2 separate regions of the Homo sapiens genome follow, and region 2 is linked to region 1. Evidence: fine-mapped expression QTL. Tissue or cell type: whole blood. Region 1 holds a variant in brackets; the other region holds the start of a gene. All regions are shown on one strand. Distances are from middle to middle.

Region 1 (8,107 bases):
CACCAGCAGCCTTAAAGTATATTTTTAGCCAGACCAGTTCAGACATAGCTAGAATTCTGCTTCTCTAAAAATAAAAGATTCTGCCTGTCAAGAAGATACCAGTGAAAATTCTCACCCCATGCCAACAGGGCTGGATTGTGGGAGAGACACTAGGTAGTGTACGTCAGAGCAAATAGGGAACAGTTGAAGTAAGGAGACTGGTGTTGGGGGTCAGCCAAGACTTTGTATCTCCATCTAGTCAACAGATGTTTATTAAGACCATTCCTTGTACTAGAAGCTGGGAATGCTTAAAAAGATATAGCCCTTGTTGTCACTGTCTTATCCTGTTGTCTGTGTCGTCCTGTGTTGTCATAGCCCCATTATCTGCATAGGAGACAGTCTTTAGTTCTAAAATGGGATATTAGAATGGTTTAAATCTGACAGTTGCATTCCCTGCAAGCTGCAATTTTAATTAGAATCCTGGTTTAGTTGAAGGAATTCAAGATTTGATTGTTAAATCAAATGAATCTAATGAAAGCACTTTCTGAACTAATACACAGTAATATGGTTGAGGCCACGTGCAATCCCAGCACTTTGGGAGGCCGAGGCGGGCAGATCACCTGAGGTCAGGAGATCGAGACCATCCTGGCTAACACGATGAAACCCCATCTCTACTAAAAATACAAAAAATTAGCTGGGCATGGTGGCGGGCGCCTGTGGTCCCAGCTACTTGGGAGGCTGAGGCAGAAGAATGGCGTGAATCCAGGAGGCGGAGGCTGCAGTGAGCCGAGATCGCGCCACTGCAGTCCAGCCAGGGTGACAGAACGAGACTCCATCTAAAAAAAAAAAAAAAAAAAAAAGTAATAATAATAATATGGTTGAATACAATCTATGCATTTCAAAGCTTAGTAAGGAGGAAGAACTTGAGCTTGTGAGGAGCTATTGAGAGAGCTTTGGATACAAGCAAGACTTTATCATAGTTCTTTACAATTGATTATTTAGGAATATTATTTTAATAATCTGAAGAACAATAACCAGCCCCACATCTTTTTTGTTAAATACTGTAGTGGTTCCTTGCCCACAGTTATATGCTCTCTCTTTAAAAATAACTTTTAAGGCAGGCATAGTGGCACTGTAATCCCAAGGCACTGTAATCCCAGCGCTTTGGGAGGCCAAGGCAGGAGGATCACTTGAGTCCAGGAGTTGGAGAGTGGCCTGGGCAACACAGTGAGAACCCCATCTCTCCAAAAAATGAAAGAATTATCTGAGCATGGTGGTACACCCCTGTGGTCCCAGCTACTCAGGAGGCTGAGGTGGGAGGATCACTTGAGCCCAGGAGATCAAGGCTTCTGTGAGCTGATTGTACCACTGCACTCCAGCCTGAGCAACACAATGAGACCCTGTCTCAAAGTAATAATGATAATAACAATTGTTATATAGTATAATGAAAAAGCTTTCGGATGATTAAACTCCCAGATGTCTGACTAAGTGGCCTCTAGAAGAATAATTTACCATCAATAACTAAACAAATCTCTGCTTATCGCCGTGAAGCAGGTTACACATTCCCAAAAGAGAAACACGCCAATGCAAATCAACACCTGCAATTCAGAATGTTTGTTCTTGTGCCTTTGGATTTGAGGCTCACGTTTGAAACTTGTTTATTGTCTCTGACTATGCATCTTAATGTGTGTAGCATGTTTCTCTGGATTAGCAGTTACCTGGACTATACCATGTTCCAATCTTAGACATTCTGGCATCTTCTGCACATCTCTCTGAGGAACCCCTCTAAGGGAAATACACAGATGTTGGATATCCTGTAGCCTGTATTTTAAGTCAGGCTACATCAAAATACTTAATGTATTTTTTAATACCAGCTGTTTTCACAACATACAATGCCAGGTAGGTAGAAACTTAATTTTACTTCTAGAGATTTGAATTATTTTTAGTCCACAATCTATTAAAATAATACTACATTAGAGTCTAACTGCAGTGGTGTTAGAAGCATCTGTGGGGAATACCAAACTATTTGTACTGATAAACTATCTGATATTAATAAAAGAATGATTTGAATGATAGCTTTTCCTTTTTTTTTTTTTGAGACAGAGTCTCACTCTGTCACCCATGCTAACATACGGTGCACAATCTTGGCTCACTGCAACCTCCACCTCCCAGAGTTGAGCGATTCTCCTGTCTGAGCCTCCCAAACAGCTGGGAGTACAGGTGCGCACCACCACACCTGGCTAATTTTTGTGTGTTTAGTAGAGGTGGGGTTTCACCATATTGGCCAGGCTGGTCTCGAACTCCTGACCTCAAGTGATCCGCCTGCCTCAGCCTCTCAAAGTGCTGGGATTACAGGCATAAGCTTTTATTTTTTATTGTAGAGATGGGGTCTCCCTGTGTTGCGCAGGCTGGTCTTGAACGCCTGGGCTGAAGTGATCCTCCCACTTCCACCTCCCAAAGTGCTGGGATTATAGGTATGAGTTACCATGCCTGGCCTGCATTTAAGAATATTTTTATAGCAAATAAGAGAAATGTTTGACAGCTTTTATAAGAGATATAAGTAATTTGCTTCTTTTATTAATCTATTTGCTATGTACATAAGGACTTAAAGCTGTTTAACGTCCCTTACTAACAGGCTGACAAGATACTTTAGCTTTCATATTGTTAGAATATCCCAGAATAATTGTTTTATTTTATTCTATTGTATTTTATTTTATTTATTTATTTATTTTTGAGACGGAGTCTCACTCTGTCGCCCAGGCTGGAATGCAGTGGCGCGATCTCGGCTCACTGCAACCTCCGCCTCCTGGGTTCACGCCATTCTCCTGCCTCAGCCTCCCGAGTAGCTTGGACTACAGATGCCCGCCACCACGCCCGGCTAATTTTTTGTGTTTTTTAGTAGAGACGGGGTTTCACCGTGTTAGCCAGGATGGTCTTGATCTCCTGACCTTGTGATCTGCCCACCTCGGCCTCTCAAAGTGCTGGGATTACAGGCGTGAGCCACCGTGCCCGGCCTATTTATTTATTTTTATTTTTGTTGAGACAGAGTCTCACTGCTGGAGTGCAGTGGCGTGATCTCTGCTCACTGCAACCTCTGCCTCCCAGGTTCAAGTGAGTCTCCTGCCTCAGTCTCCCAAGTAGTTGGGATTACAGGCACATGCCACCATGCCTGGCTAATGTTTGTATTTTTAGTAGAGACAGGTTTTACCCTGTTGGCCAGGCTAGTCTCGAACTCCTGACCTCAGGTGATTCACCCGTCTTGGCCTCCCAAAGTGCTGGGATTACAGGTATGAGCCACTGTGCCTGTCCTCCAGAATAATAATTTTAAAATAATAAATGAAGGACAAAATAATTTGCACTACAAAGGCTGTGGATTTGGGTATAGATTTGTTACTTTTTCACCTAAAATCAAATATTTTTTTTGTAAGTCAAAAGAAGAACTTTTAAAAAATAATGATTTTAAACTCTTTAATACTGAGATGGGCTAGATGTGGGTAAGAGAGAATTTTATTACATTCCAACCTGGAAATTTCTAATAAATTTACAGTGTTGACACAGATGCCTCAAATCTTATTTGGTAGACATTTTAAGAATATTAATATATTGGAAGTTAAAATAGAACTATCAGTCTGTGTGAAATGTTTTCTTGGTAAAAGTCAAACTCTTTGTTTTTATTTCACAGACAATTGTGGCAATTAATAAAGACCCAGAAGCTCCAATTTTCCAAGTGGCAGATTATGGAATAGTTGCAGATTTATTTAAGGTAAGCTGGCCTTGAGAGAAATTGCTATTATCTAGATTGTCATCCGAGAAACTCTCAGAAATGGTTAGGGATGAAGCTATTAAAAGAAAACATTGTGTGTTTGTGTGTCTGTGTTTGTATGTATACTGTTAATATATGTACACAATTTTGACCTACTTAAAGTTAAGTTGCTCTAAGAGTAGATATGTGTTGTTTATATAGAGCATTATAACTTTCCTTTTAAGAAAGAGTCCAAATTGTCTTTAAAATATCCACATGGCGGCCGGGCGTGGTGGCTCACACCTGTAATCCCAGCACTTTGGGAGGCGGAGG[C/T]GGGCGGATCATGAGGTCAGGAGATCGAGACCATCCTGGCTAACACAGTGAAACCCCGTCTCTACTAAAAAATACAAAAAATTAGCTGGGCGTGGTGGCAGGCGCCTGTAGTCCCAGCTACTCGGGAGGCTGAGGCAGGAGAATAGTGTGAACCCAGGAGGCGGAGCTTGCAGTGAGCAGAGATCGTGCCACTACACTCCAGCCTGGGTGACAGAGTGAGAGACTCTGTCTCAAAAACAAAACAAAACAAAAAAAACCCACATGGTTTTTGGCATCTCATGTGCTAAGTTAATGCACAATGTGAAGTGATTCAAGTAATTTATAACCTGGAATCATATTTGGCAGGTACCCTAAAGAAATTAACATCAAACCCCCTTATTCAGGGATTTGCCAAGAATGCTAGAGCTTTTCAGGGGAGAGTAGGCACCCATATCCAGCTTATCTGTCTCAATAGGAATGCTCTGCTTGCTGTGTTTGTGGGTTAATGGCCTTCCTTAGCTGACGAGTGTAGGGAGAGCACTTATTTCTCACTCCTCACACTCTTCACTTTTGAGTGTTCCTTCTCTCTTGCCGTCACCTCCATATTTGACCTTCCCATGAGAAAAATTACTTTCATGATATTAATTAGTGAATTACAGGTGATGAGCACCTGATACTCATTTGGCTACATTTAAAGGTCATGACTCATGCGTGGCCTGGTCTCTTCTTTTTCCTGGGTCTGCCTACACGTTTCTAGGTTATCTTATGCAGAAATCACTTATGCAGGAATTGACACTCTGAAAATAGCATCCAACCCTAGGAGAAGTGGGTTTGCTGGGGTGAGGAACCCCTCATGTAGAACCACAGCGAGGGGCTATGGGCCTTAGTGGAGAGGCTTCAGCCTGAGAACAGAGCTACAGGTGGTTCCCTCAGCAAGAGGACTGGCCCATTTCTGTGACTTCACCAGCACTGCATATGATCTAGAGGAACCTAGTGAGTGTGCTTGGAGAGTACATTTGTACTTTGAAGTATGTTCATGCTCAGTGAAGGATGGAAATAGGACCCTTGAGCCGATTACTCCGTGATGGCTCAGACTGCATGCAAAGACTAGGATGGGGCTCTTGCTCTGGCTCAGTGTTGGGCATACTTCCCCTCAGAAGGCCCCCGCCAAAGAGCTTAGATTTTGGCTTGGGAAAAACATTACCCCTCTTCAGTAACCCTGAAGCTCTGTATTTGGTATTTGGGATTCAGGTAGGTCAGCTGCTCATGTTGCCTGGCCCAAGTGTGTAAGAACAAACAGTAATGCCAGTCATTTTCCCACTAAGATGTTCCAGTGGGAAGGGGGGCTGGTATGAAAAAGAGAATTTTTTTTTCTCTGTGTAATGATAACTTTGTTCACGTAGTAAGAATTCAGTTCTTACTATTGGTGTGAATAGGGGGTAAATATTATTTTTATTTAAAAGCAAAATTAAATACTTTCTGAACCTCATCCATGTTTGCAAGTAGATGTCTACTGTGGTTGCCTTTTTTCCTCAAGAGAATATTTTAATAAACTTGTAAGTAATTTTGTTACATTTTTCTGTCTGCCTGTGTACTATGTATTAAAACTCACATGGGGGCTTTCATGATAAAAAGATAAACTGTTAAGCAGTTGGAAATTTTCAGTGTTCTTCCAGTGGACACCTGCCTTGGGGCAGGAGCTTCTTTGTAGTCATTATTGATAGAATGGGGTCACACACATTGTGCTCCTGCATTAAGGGCAGCTCCAAGGTTTGGCATGAGACTATGCATGTGTGTGGACACGGAGGTTTCTCAGTGAGAAAGAGTCCTAAGACAGTGAAGTGGAACGAGGCCTTAAAAATCATCTAGTCAGCTGACTTCCAGTTTCAGGTTCTCAGGCTCCTTTTGGTATTTTAGGAAGCCCACATTGGACTAGAGAGAGACTTCAGACCAAGATATCATGTTTATGTTCTTTTAGCTAGAATTGTGTTAAGGCAATGACTATCTCCTACAGCTTAGAAGTTCTGAAGTACATGGCCAGGAGCGGTGGCTCACACCTGCAATCCCAGCACTTTGGGAGGCCGAGGCGGGTGGATCACCCGAGCTCAGGAGTTTGAGACCAGCCTGGGCAAGATGGTGAAACCCTGTCTCTACTAAAACTGTGAAAAACACATTAGCCGAGCATGGTGATGCATGCCTGTAATCCCAGCTACTTGAGAGGCTGGGGCACAAGAATCACTTGAGCCTGGGAGGCAGAGGTTACAGTGAGCCAAGATGGTGCCAGTGGACTCCAGCCTAGGCAACAGAGCAAGACTCTGTCTCAAAAAAAAAAAAAAAAAAAGTTCTGAAGTACAGTTATATATGTATTTGATTAATACAAAAGTAGAGAAGTTAATCACTCCTTAAAAAATGCAGTTTGGGAGGCCAGGCACAATGGCTTATGCCTGTAATCCCAGTACTTTGGAAGGCCGAGGAAAGGCGGATCACTTGAGTCCAGGAGTAGGAGACCAGCCTGAGCAACATGGTGAAACCCCATCTCTACAAAAAATACAAAAATTAGCTGGGTCTGGTGACGTGTGCCTGTGGTCCCAGCTACTTGGGAGACTGAGGTAGGAGGTTCACGTGGGCCCAGGAGATTGAGACTTCAGTGAGCCATGATTACACCACTGCACTTCAGCCTGGGCAGCAGAGTAAGACCCTGTCTCAAAAAAAAAAAAAATTCAGTTTGGGGGAAAAAAACTAAAGATTATAAAAATATTAAACATATGGCAGACTCCTCTTTGTTACCATGTGAGTAACACAAGCCAGGTGCATTCTTTTTAAGTTGCCTGTCCCAGAGAGATGTGATTTGGGACAATCCACAGGTTATGGGCACAACTAAGCCAGGGTCCTGCTTCTGTTCCCCTTCTCTCTCATTTCTCTGCCTCTCTGGCTCAGCAGGTACTACAGCTGGGTGGCTCACCACTACTATTGTACCTTGGATAAGGTGCAGTAAAAATCGCACCTTTGACAGACTCTAGGAACCTACAGAGTACGCATGAAGTTGTTTTCTCAGCTGAAATCAGAATGAGCTTATTGTAGGTGAATACTGTAGTAATTCTGACACAAGAGCACAGACAAAGTGGTTTGGTGAATATATTCCTTACTGGGGCGATCTCGTTTTTAAAAAATCAAATATTTAAAATATTTTAAAAATCAAATATTTAATACTTTTGATTAAAAAATAAAAAATACAATATTTGTATAATTATATTTCTTAATGTTATATATTTTATATTTTTAATATTTTATTTTTATTTTTTGTATTTTATGTATTGTAATTATATTTTAAAATTATAATTTTAAAAAATATATTTATATAACATTAAGAAACATATAAGGTAATATCTTTATATAACATTAAGAAATACAATTAATTATACAAATTATGGGTGAGAATTAATTAGCATTACCTATTTTGGCTTATGATCTAAAGAAAATAGAAGTCAAATAATAGCGTACAGAAAGGACTTTTTTAGCCTAATTTTTGTGTGAAAATTTTAAATTGCAAATTGTATCATGTATAACATGTATATACAGCTGTTAGACTAATAATTCCCTAGGTGATATTTTGCTCACCAAGTAGAACCGTATCTGGAGTAAAAATGAATATGCATAACATTTTATTCTCTTATATTAATTGTTTTGCTTGACCCTTCAACAATCATTAGTTATAAAGGACAAGTTTGTTTTTCCCTCAGAAATAATATGTTATAGTAATTAAGAGCTTTAATTCCAATTCTGCCTTGGCCACATACTAGTTAAATTATCTTGGCTAAGTTATTTAATCTCTGGACATCAGCTTGCTTGTAAGTAATGTAAATATTACACTACCTCTTTAAAGGTTGTAATGAAGATTAAATGAGATTATACTGTACCTAATACTAATAGAGTCTGTGACAAATATTAGCCTGCCTGTTCTGTCCAGGTACATAGTAGGTGCTGGTAAATATTATAATTGTAGTCACAGTGATAGGGCATAGGGCACCACCTGTTTTTTGTTTGTTTTAGTATAACAGCTTTACTGAGATATAA
Region 2 (8,107 bases), 110 kb before region 1:
CCCAGAAAAGGGCACGCAGATACCGCGGCGGAAGCGCAGCCCCCACCCGACTCGAGCCTCCGGCCCAGCGGCTGCTCACCGTCTTGTCGCTGTGCTGCTGCTGCTGCAGCTGCTTCATGAGAATGGATTTCTTCTTGTCCTTGCAGCGCTTGTTCTGGAACCAGACGCGGATGACCCGCGGGCTCAGGCCGGTCATCTCCACCAGCTGCTCCTTCATGAGAGCGTCGGGCCGCGGGTTGGCGGCGTAGCAGGTCCGCAGAGTGTGCAGCTGCTTCTCGTTCAGCACAGTCCGCACGCGGGTCGTCTTCTCCGTCTGCTTGTGCACGTGCGGGCGCAACGCGGGCTGCCGGCCCGACCCAGCGTCTGCCAGGACAGGGTGAGGCCAGAGGTTAGCGAGGGGCCGCCACCCACCCGCCCCGAGCCCAACCTCCGGGTGGCCCAGCCCCCCGGGGCCCGATTTCGTTTCTGTTTTATTCTGTTTGTTTCGTTTAATTGTTCGTCTTCCTCTCCATCTGTTCGCCTTACTCGGAGAGAGCTGTGCATTTTCGTTCTTTCTCTCGCTCCCGGGCCGGACTGCCCCGCAGCGATCTCTCCCGAGCTCAAGCAGGGCGCGGGAGCTCGGCGACAGGCCGCTGCGGGGAGGGAGTGGCTGCTCAGGGATGTGCCTCCTCCAGTCGCAGGACCCTCGGAACGAGCGAAGCCCTCCGGAAGAAGTCGGAGTTTCAGAGGAAGAGGAAAGAGGCTTGCCCAGGACTCTGGAGAGGGAAAGGGACCGACGTGGACCCAGGGCGAGGCGCTGCCCAGGGGACTGGGTGGGAGGTGCGAATATGCCGGGGGCCTACGAGGGCCCTTCCCCTCCTTCAGAGCCCATTTGGACAGGGCCAGGCCACATGTGTAGAAGACTCATCCACGGTTATGGACGGGCCTCCAGGGCTTGCAACAGTTCCTTCCTGCCCGCCCTTGGGCTTCGGCCCCTGTCTCCTTCCTCAAGGCTCCAGGTTCCCCAGCCCAGTGGCCTCCCACCGACCAAGGTGCTGAGCAGCCGCTGGCACTCTCCTCGCTTGGCCCCAGGTTCTCTCCATCCCGGGGAAACAGTGACTGATTCCAGAGCCTGCACCCTGAAGCCCGAAACAAACAAAGGGGAGCCTCTCCGAGATCCCAGATGGGGGTGCACTGAATACCCGCTTGCTCCCATTTCACATCTCCATTTGATCCCGACCCATATATACCGTGGATCTGTACTGCACCATTTCGGTTTATGTTCCCCTCTACGAATTTCTAGGTCTGGACAAATATTTACAAATAGCCCATCCAGCCCAGTTTCCTCTTTCTATAGGGAGGAAGTGAAGATCCAGAGAGGGGAGGAGCGGGGCAAGGCCACACAGCACCCAGAGGCCCAGCCTGGTCTACGGATCTGTGCTGCAGGCCTATGGCTACCTGGGGGAAACTGCCTTGCCTGGGGTGGAGGCACCTCTGTTTCTGTTCAGCCGTACCTGCCCATTATACACTCAGACCCCATCTCTGGGCAGCTGCTGATTAGGACCCAGAATATTCCAGTGACAGTCCACTATGCATTGATACTCCCCCTCCCCCAGAAGAACCTGGCTAAATTGTTCATCAAACTGGGCCTCAAAACAAGATGGCAAAAACCCCTCTTTGTTGGGTTCTTGGCTCCTGGCTGACCAAGCTCCTGCCCAGCTCCCAGTTTGGAGCTGTGTTACTTACACACATACCCCTGGGCAAACCTTACCCTCTGACAATAACACATATTCCTCCAAGAAATTCCTAATACAAGCCCCAAGACGGACACCACTTAAGATTCCCTGTTGTCATCCACTCTTCTGCTCCTAGCACTGTGCCCTGCATGTTCCTGGTCATGGAGAACACGATTCTGCACAATTCTCCGTGCTCACACACTCATACACACGCAGTTTCTCCCGAGCACACGAGAATACACACAGCCTTGTTCCCAGCACACAGTTCCGCACTGATACAGAAAAACACTATCCCGGCAGACGGAACCACACACAACTGACAACTTCTCGTTAGGGACACAAGCGTACCCCTACACACACGCACGCACATACACCCCGCTCACCCCGGCACAGGCCCCGGCGCGCTTACCGGGCAGATGCAGGCCGCGGGCGCCGGGAAGCGGGCCGGGGCTGCGCGGGCTGCCGGCCGCGGCGCGCTCGAGCAGGAGGCCGTGGTCGGCGCGGCAGAGCAGCTCGTGCTCCCGCAGCGAGAACTCGTCCCCAGGCAGCAGCTGGCGGCTGCACACGGAGCAGCGGAAGCACTCGATGTGGTACACGCTGTCCCGCGCCCTCATCACCAGGTCGCTGCTGCTGAAGCCCACCTGGCACTTGGCGCACTTGATGCCGAACAGCCTGCGGGCCCAAGGTGCGGCGGTGTCAGCGCTGGGCCTGCGGCCGCCCTCATCTCCCTGGCTGCTACGGCTCCGGCGCGCGCCCAGGACACTTTGTGGCCACCAGGAGACTGCGGTGACCCGCCTGCGGGCATTCCCGGGCCCGGGGGAGCGCTGCGGCACCCGTGCGGGATGCGGATGGCCTTCTCCCTGGGCAGGGCCGGGGCGCGCGGGCAGGCCGCCATCCCCAGTCCCGGCCCCGGCCCCTGCGCGCGGTGGCCCAGCCCGCGTTCCCGCCGGCCTCACCTGACATAGTCCCGCTTGCAGTAGGTCTTCCCGTCTCTCACGAAGCACGTGCACGTCTCGTCCAGGTACTGGCTGCACTCGGCACACTTGAGGCAGGCCGCGTGCCACTCGAGGTCGGGCGACACCCGCAGGATAAACTGGTCGTGGATCTGACTCCCGCAGCCCACGCACATGGCCGTCCCGGGCTTCTCTGCCGGGGAAGGGCGCGGGGCCGCGTCAGGCCTGACTGCCCGGACCCAGGCCGGCCTCGGCTACTCCAGCCCCAACCCAACCCGCTCGCTCTCTTGCTCTTTCTTTCAAGACTTGCGACCATAAGGAAAGATGATGAGCTCTCTAAAGGTCCAGGGCATTGGAAACGAAAAACCAGTATCTTGTGGATTGCTGAAGGTTTCTTCTGTCCCCCACCCCAAATATTTCGTTATTACATTCATTAATGACAGTCGTTTTGTCGACGTGTCTTGAAACTAAACGCAAACACGAAACTAAGAAGAGAGTAAATACACAGGCACTGCGGACGCCTGGATATCAACACCTAACGGTGCTGTCCTGGCATTTCCGCTCACACACTCCCACTCACAGCGGCTGCCTCCTATCCCAACACAGACACATCGTCTTTCGGCAGTCCCCGCTCATCCTCTCAGACATTTCTTAGTTTAAATATCCCAGAGCAAGCGAAAGAAAGCTTCCTAGCTTTGAAAAACCGAAAGGCAAACAAACAACAACCAAAAAAAAAAAAACCCACATCCCTAAATCAAACCTAATTGCCTTTGCGCAAAACAGAAGCAGATTTCGCAGCCCGAAGTCATCCTAGCCGGCTTGAGAAATAGTGTTTACTTATAAAATAAAACAACAGGATTCCCAAAGATAAGCAGTCCTGCAGGAGACATGCATTCGTTTTTCCTCTCCTAAACTATTCTGACAAATAGAAGCCACTTGTAGAATCCACTAAACATTTTTCTGCATTAGAAATTTTGCATATTAAGCATACACACACACCCCACCCCACACACACACAGAAATACTTACTCTTGGAATGATCACCCATAGCACCCAGAAAAGGATAATGAAAAATAATATCCACCATGCAGAAAAAGAGATGTGCGCAAAGTGTGCGGCCAGGGGCAGAAGGACGAGGGTCGCGCGCCCGGCCTCGGCTCTTTGCTAACTAACTCCTACTGCCCCGCGGAGTTGAAGGAGCGATTCCGCACCGGCCCGCACGCAGCATGACGTCAACACGCACTAGCCCCGGGCCGGAGCTGGGGGCGGGACCTGTGGCGTCACGAAGCTTCCCCAGAACTGCCGGGGATGCGGGGGAGGTGATGGGGATCCAGGGGCTGATGGGCGGGGTGGGTTGGGTTGGAGGCTGGGGGTGAAGGGAGATTGGCTGGGAGGAAGTGGGCCAACCCTGATTGGCCCGGAGTGAACAATGGAGTGCAGCCCCCCCACCTCCGAAACCTACAAGGATCCTCTCTCATGCCCCGGGCCTGGCAATCTGGACTGGACCTTGCGTCACCGCCGAGCTGGCTCCGCGGCCGTTACAACTCTGAGCTTCCTCTTGGACTTTCGGGGCGGTTTTCCCAGGCGCGCTGGAGCTGGGTGATGGATACCTGAGGGTGGAGATGGCTCTCCTTTAAGAGCTCCCTTCTTATATAAATTAAAAAAAAAAAAATTAAACCCACTCTCAGGACGAGAGAGCCGAGGACAAGGGGGATCCGTTTGGACGTGACCGTCATCGTCCAGCTGGTCACCTTTCTCCTCTCATGTGCCTTTGTTCTTCGGGTCCAAGCTAGAGAGAGTGTAGAGAATGACCACCTGGGTTCTGATAAACTCTATTTAGACTTTCCTATCCACACACACGTAGAAAACTTTAGATTGGGGCATTACGTGGGTTGAGCCAGAACCCAGATCCAAAAGCGCTCACCCGGGACTGGGACGGGTCCTGACTCCATCCTTGCTGCTGCTGCCGCTGCTGCTGCCCCTCCTCCCTCTCCTCCACCACCACCTCCTCCTCCTGCTCCACTTCCTTTTTTTTGTTGTTTTGTTTTGCTTTTAATTTGTTGCTGTTGTTGTTTTAAATGTAACATGGACTTCCCCGCCCCCTCATTTTTCCCCCATCCAAATGGCATAGCTCCTTTTAGGAACACTGCTGGGGTCGATTGCGTGTCCAACTTCCAAAATAAAAGATTTTTCTAAACTCTTGTCCTTCATTAACAAACCCACTGCAATGCAAATAATCAGAAACGAACGTAAGGCGCTGGGTAATTTACAGTGGTATCTGCGAGGCGGCGGCTCGTTGGTCCTGAGAAAATCTGAGAGCTCTGAGCACAGTCCAGGCATTCTTTCAAAGAAATCGCTGTGGGTTTTGTTTGAAAGGGTTCAAAGACCGGCCCATGAATTATAAATAACATTTATCCAACCATGGTGTCTGTTCTTGTTTTCCCATTAAAAGGAGTACCAAGAACTTGGTGTGCGCCTGGGTGGGGCGCGAGGTGAAACGCCTGCGGATAAAGTGTCTCCACCGCCATTCCAGACCCTGCCCAGACCTTCGGGCTTGTGGGCCTGAGGGCGCGGTCGCTACTGCCGTTCTACTAAGAGCATGAGGTTGGTTGGCGTCGAAACGGATGCAGCCGAGGGCGCAGGCCGAGGCTTTGCAGAAGGCTAGGGCGAGGCCCCGAGTGCACGCTAACATTATTCGACCATGGTCCACGGTGAACGTTCCTCACCGGCCCCGCGCTGGGGCGAGCGCTTTAAGCCTCGTCCAGTAGCGTCCGGCTTTTGAGCTCCGCCTCCACCTTTAGGAGGTCTAGTCTTCTCACCGGTCCGGCTTTTTTTTTTTTTTTTTTTTTTTTTTTTTTGAGATAGACTCTTGCTGTGCCGCCCAGGCTGGAGTGTAATGGTGCGATCTCGGCTCACTGCAACCTCCGCCTCCCGGGTTCAAGCGATTCTCCTGCCTCAGCCTCCTGAGTAGCTGAGATTGCAGGCGAGCGCCACCACGCCCCGCTAATTTTTGTATTTTTAGTAGAAACCGGGTTTCACCATGTTTGTCAGGCTGGTCTCGAACTCCTGACCTCGTGATCCGCCCACCTCGGCTTCCCACAGTGCTGGGATTACAGGCGTGAGCCACCGCGCCGGGCCACCGGACCGGCTCTTGTTACAGTTTACCACCCGTTGGCCAATAGGCCATTTCTTGCGTCTTTAGTCAACAGTCCCCCAAAGAGCGCTCACCCTGAGTGTGTGCGGGCAGGTCAGGGGTTGGGGGATGCTGCGTTTGAATGAATGTGTTTATGTAAATGGGGGACAAGAGCGAGGGGGTGGGTATCTGTGCCTGAGGCTGTGCCAGGACACCTGTGTGACCTCAGGCATCTTATTTTAATTCTCCTTCCCTCAGTTTCCTCATCTGTAAAATGGGGGTATAATAATTGTAGCTATCTCTATTACATAATAATTAAATAAACTGTTCTCTGGAAAGGGCTTAGAGCAATACCTAGCACAGAGTAAGTGCTCCATATGTGTTAATTATGACAGTTATGACTGTGGCTGTATCTTTATGTTGGGAGCCTCTGCCCACCCTGCCTGCGTGTGTCTGGATGGGGAGGGGAGGTCTAAGTATGTCTCAGTATGTGTCATCTGATGATTTCTTTGTGATTTCGATGTGTGCTTGCTGTGTGTGTGTCTGCTGTGTAGATGGGGTTTGGAGATGTGTGGTCTGTGCATAGACTTTGTGTACAGGTTATATCTGTGAATGTGGGTGCACAGTCAGAACTGGGAGGGGACTCGGTGTGTGTGTCTGCATGTGGAGTGAGGAGGTGCGTCTGGCCCAATGGCCCTACCCTTAGGTGACCCTGGACTAGGCCTGGCTCCCAGCACCTACTAGCTCTTGCTCGCCAGGCCAGGAGCAAGCACATCTATAATTCAGGGGTTCAGACAGCTGGCCAGGAGGGGGCAGCCCCAGGCTGGAATCGTAGTCCCAGCTTTTAACCGTCTCCTGCCCAGAGAAACTCTTCCTTCCCGTCCAGAAAAACCTGTCCTTTGAAACTTCACTAGGGAGGTGGGGATTGGAGAGGGTCACCCCTCCTGGGATGCTAGGAAGCCAGGTCAAAACAAATATTTGTTCAGGGCCACCATGTGCAAAGTCCTTGTTGTTAGCCTATTAGGTCTTAAAAGTAATGCCATGTGGTGAGTAGTATTGGGCCCCTCCAATCCTCGAGGAAACTGAGGCTCAGAGAGGGGAAGTTACTGCCTCAGGTCACAGGTTAAATCATTGCTGGCATTGAACCCAGGTCTATCTGGCTCCATCTTGCTTGCTTTTTTCACTGTGCCATTGAAGAGCCACATGAGTGTAGCTCCATCATTCACCCATTTCACATCTCTGGAGCTGTAAAACCAGGGATCCATTTCAAAATCACTCCATGTGTGACTTCTGGTCACAGCCACCCCTGAGAGACCAGCACTGACATGGGAGAAGAAAACACCTGCACCTGCTGGGCACGGCCACAGGCACCATTGATGTGGCCCTACCCTGGTTCTCTGCCTCCTGGCTGCTCCCTTCTCAGGTATGGAGGGGCCACACACTCTCCACATCCCAGGCTGGCATGCAGGAGACCTGGGTGCCTCCTATCCTGGGTCTTAGATCACTTTCTCCTTATCAGGAATGGCAGCTTGAGCTCCATAGCTATGCTTTATCCCATAAAACTAGCCTGTACTGGGGAGAGTTCAGAAGCACAGAGAAGTCTCCCTGATTATTTTCTCCCCAAAACCTCCTCTACCACATCACTTACAAAGGCACAGCCCCATGCACAATGTCCAGCCAACACAGAGGAAGCTGTTGCTAGTGTGGGAGCATCAGTCCTACTGTGAATATCAGGAAGGAAACTGAGGCCTGGTGACCTGTTACCCAGCATGTGATGGAGATGGAGCCGGAAGCCAGGTCCCCTAACCCAGGCCAGACCTCTTCCTGCTGGACTCCCTCTGGATGATCTTCTGCTGTCCAGGGCTGAGACCTTGCTGCCCAGCTTAAGTCACTGGACCAGGCTTCTCCTCTTGCTCCAGGCTCCATCCCCCTCCATTCTCCTTCTGCCCCACTCCCAAAGGCTTTTACTCTTCTCCAAAGGTAGTTGGAGATGTTGAATACAGCAGGCCAGAGACAGCCTCAGCATCCACATCTTCACCCACCACAGGCATCTGAGAACTTGCTTTTGAGATAGGGATGGAGCACCATGTTTCAAAGAAGAAACTAAGGCCTGGGGGCAGGAAGAAACTTGGCAAGTCAAGGTCAGGCTTCAGGCTTCCTGACATCCAAGACCCATGCTCTCTCCCCAGCTTTGCCTGCCTCCCCAACCCCAGATTCCCTTTGAGCAAACAGGTACCCACAGGCACTGCTGGGCCCCTCTCACTCCTTCCTGAGTCCCCTTCTCTCTTCCCTAAGTTACTGAGCAC

The links. PIP is the estimated chance that this variant, and not a neighbour inherited with it, causes the effect.
Region 2: it holds the start of ISL2, and the variant in region 1 is fine-mapped to the expression of ISL2 in whole blood (INTERVAL, PIP above 0.99).

Annotation. Positions count from the first base shown.
Region 1 is chr15:76,221,484-76,229,590 of GRCh38, reverse strand. ETFA (electron transfer flavoprotein subunit alpha) reads left to right here. Exons shown (of 12, transcript NM_000126.4): 11 at 3,662-3,742. Among named protein-coding and RNA genes, the nearest start is that of ETFA, 86 kb to the left of the region's middle. The variant C/T (reference allele first, on the strand shown) is at 4,055.
Region 2 is chr15:76,332,532-76,340,638 of GRCh38, reverse strand. It overlaps ISL2 (ISL LIM homeobox 2), which reads right to left and starts at 3,866. Exons shown (of 6, transcript NM_145805.3): 1 at 3,698-3,866; 2 at 2,672-2,861; 3 at 2,125-2,387; 4 at 80-363. The coding sequence starts at 3,755. RefSeq lists enhancers at 1-501, 699-908, 929-998, 2,546-3,357, 3,783-3,832 and 2 more.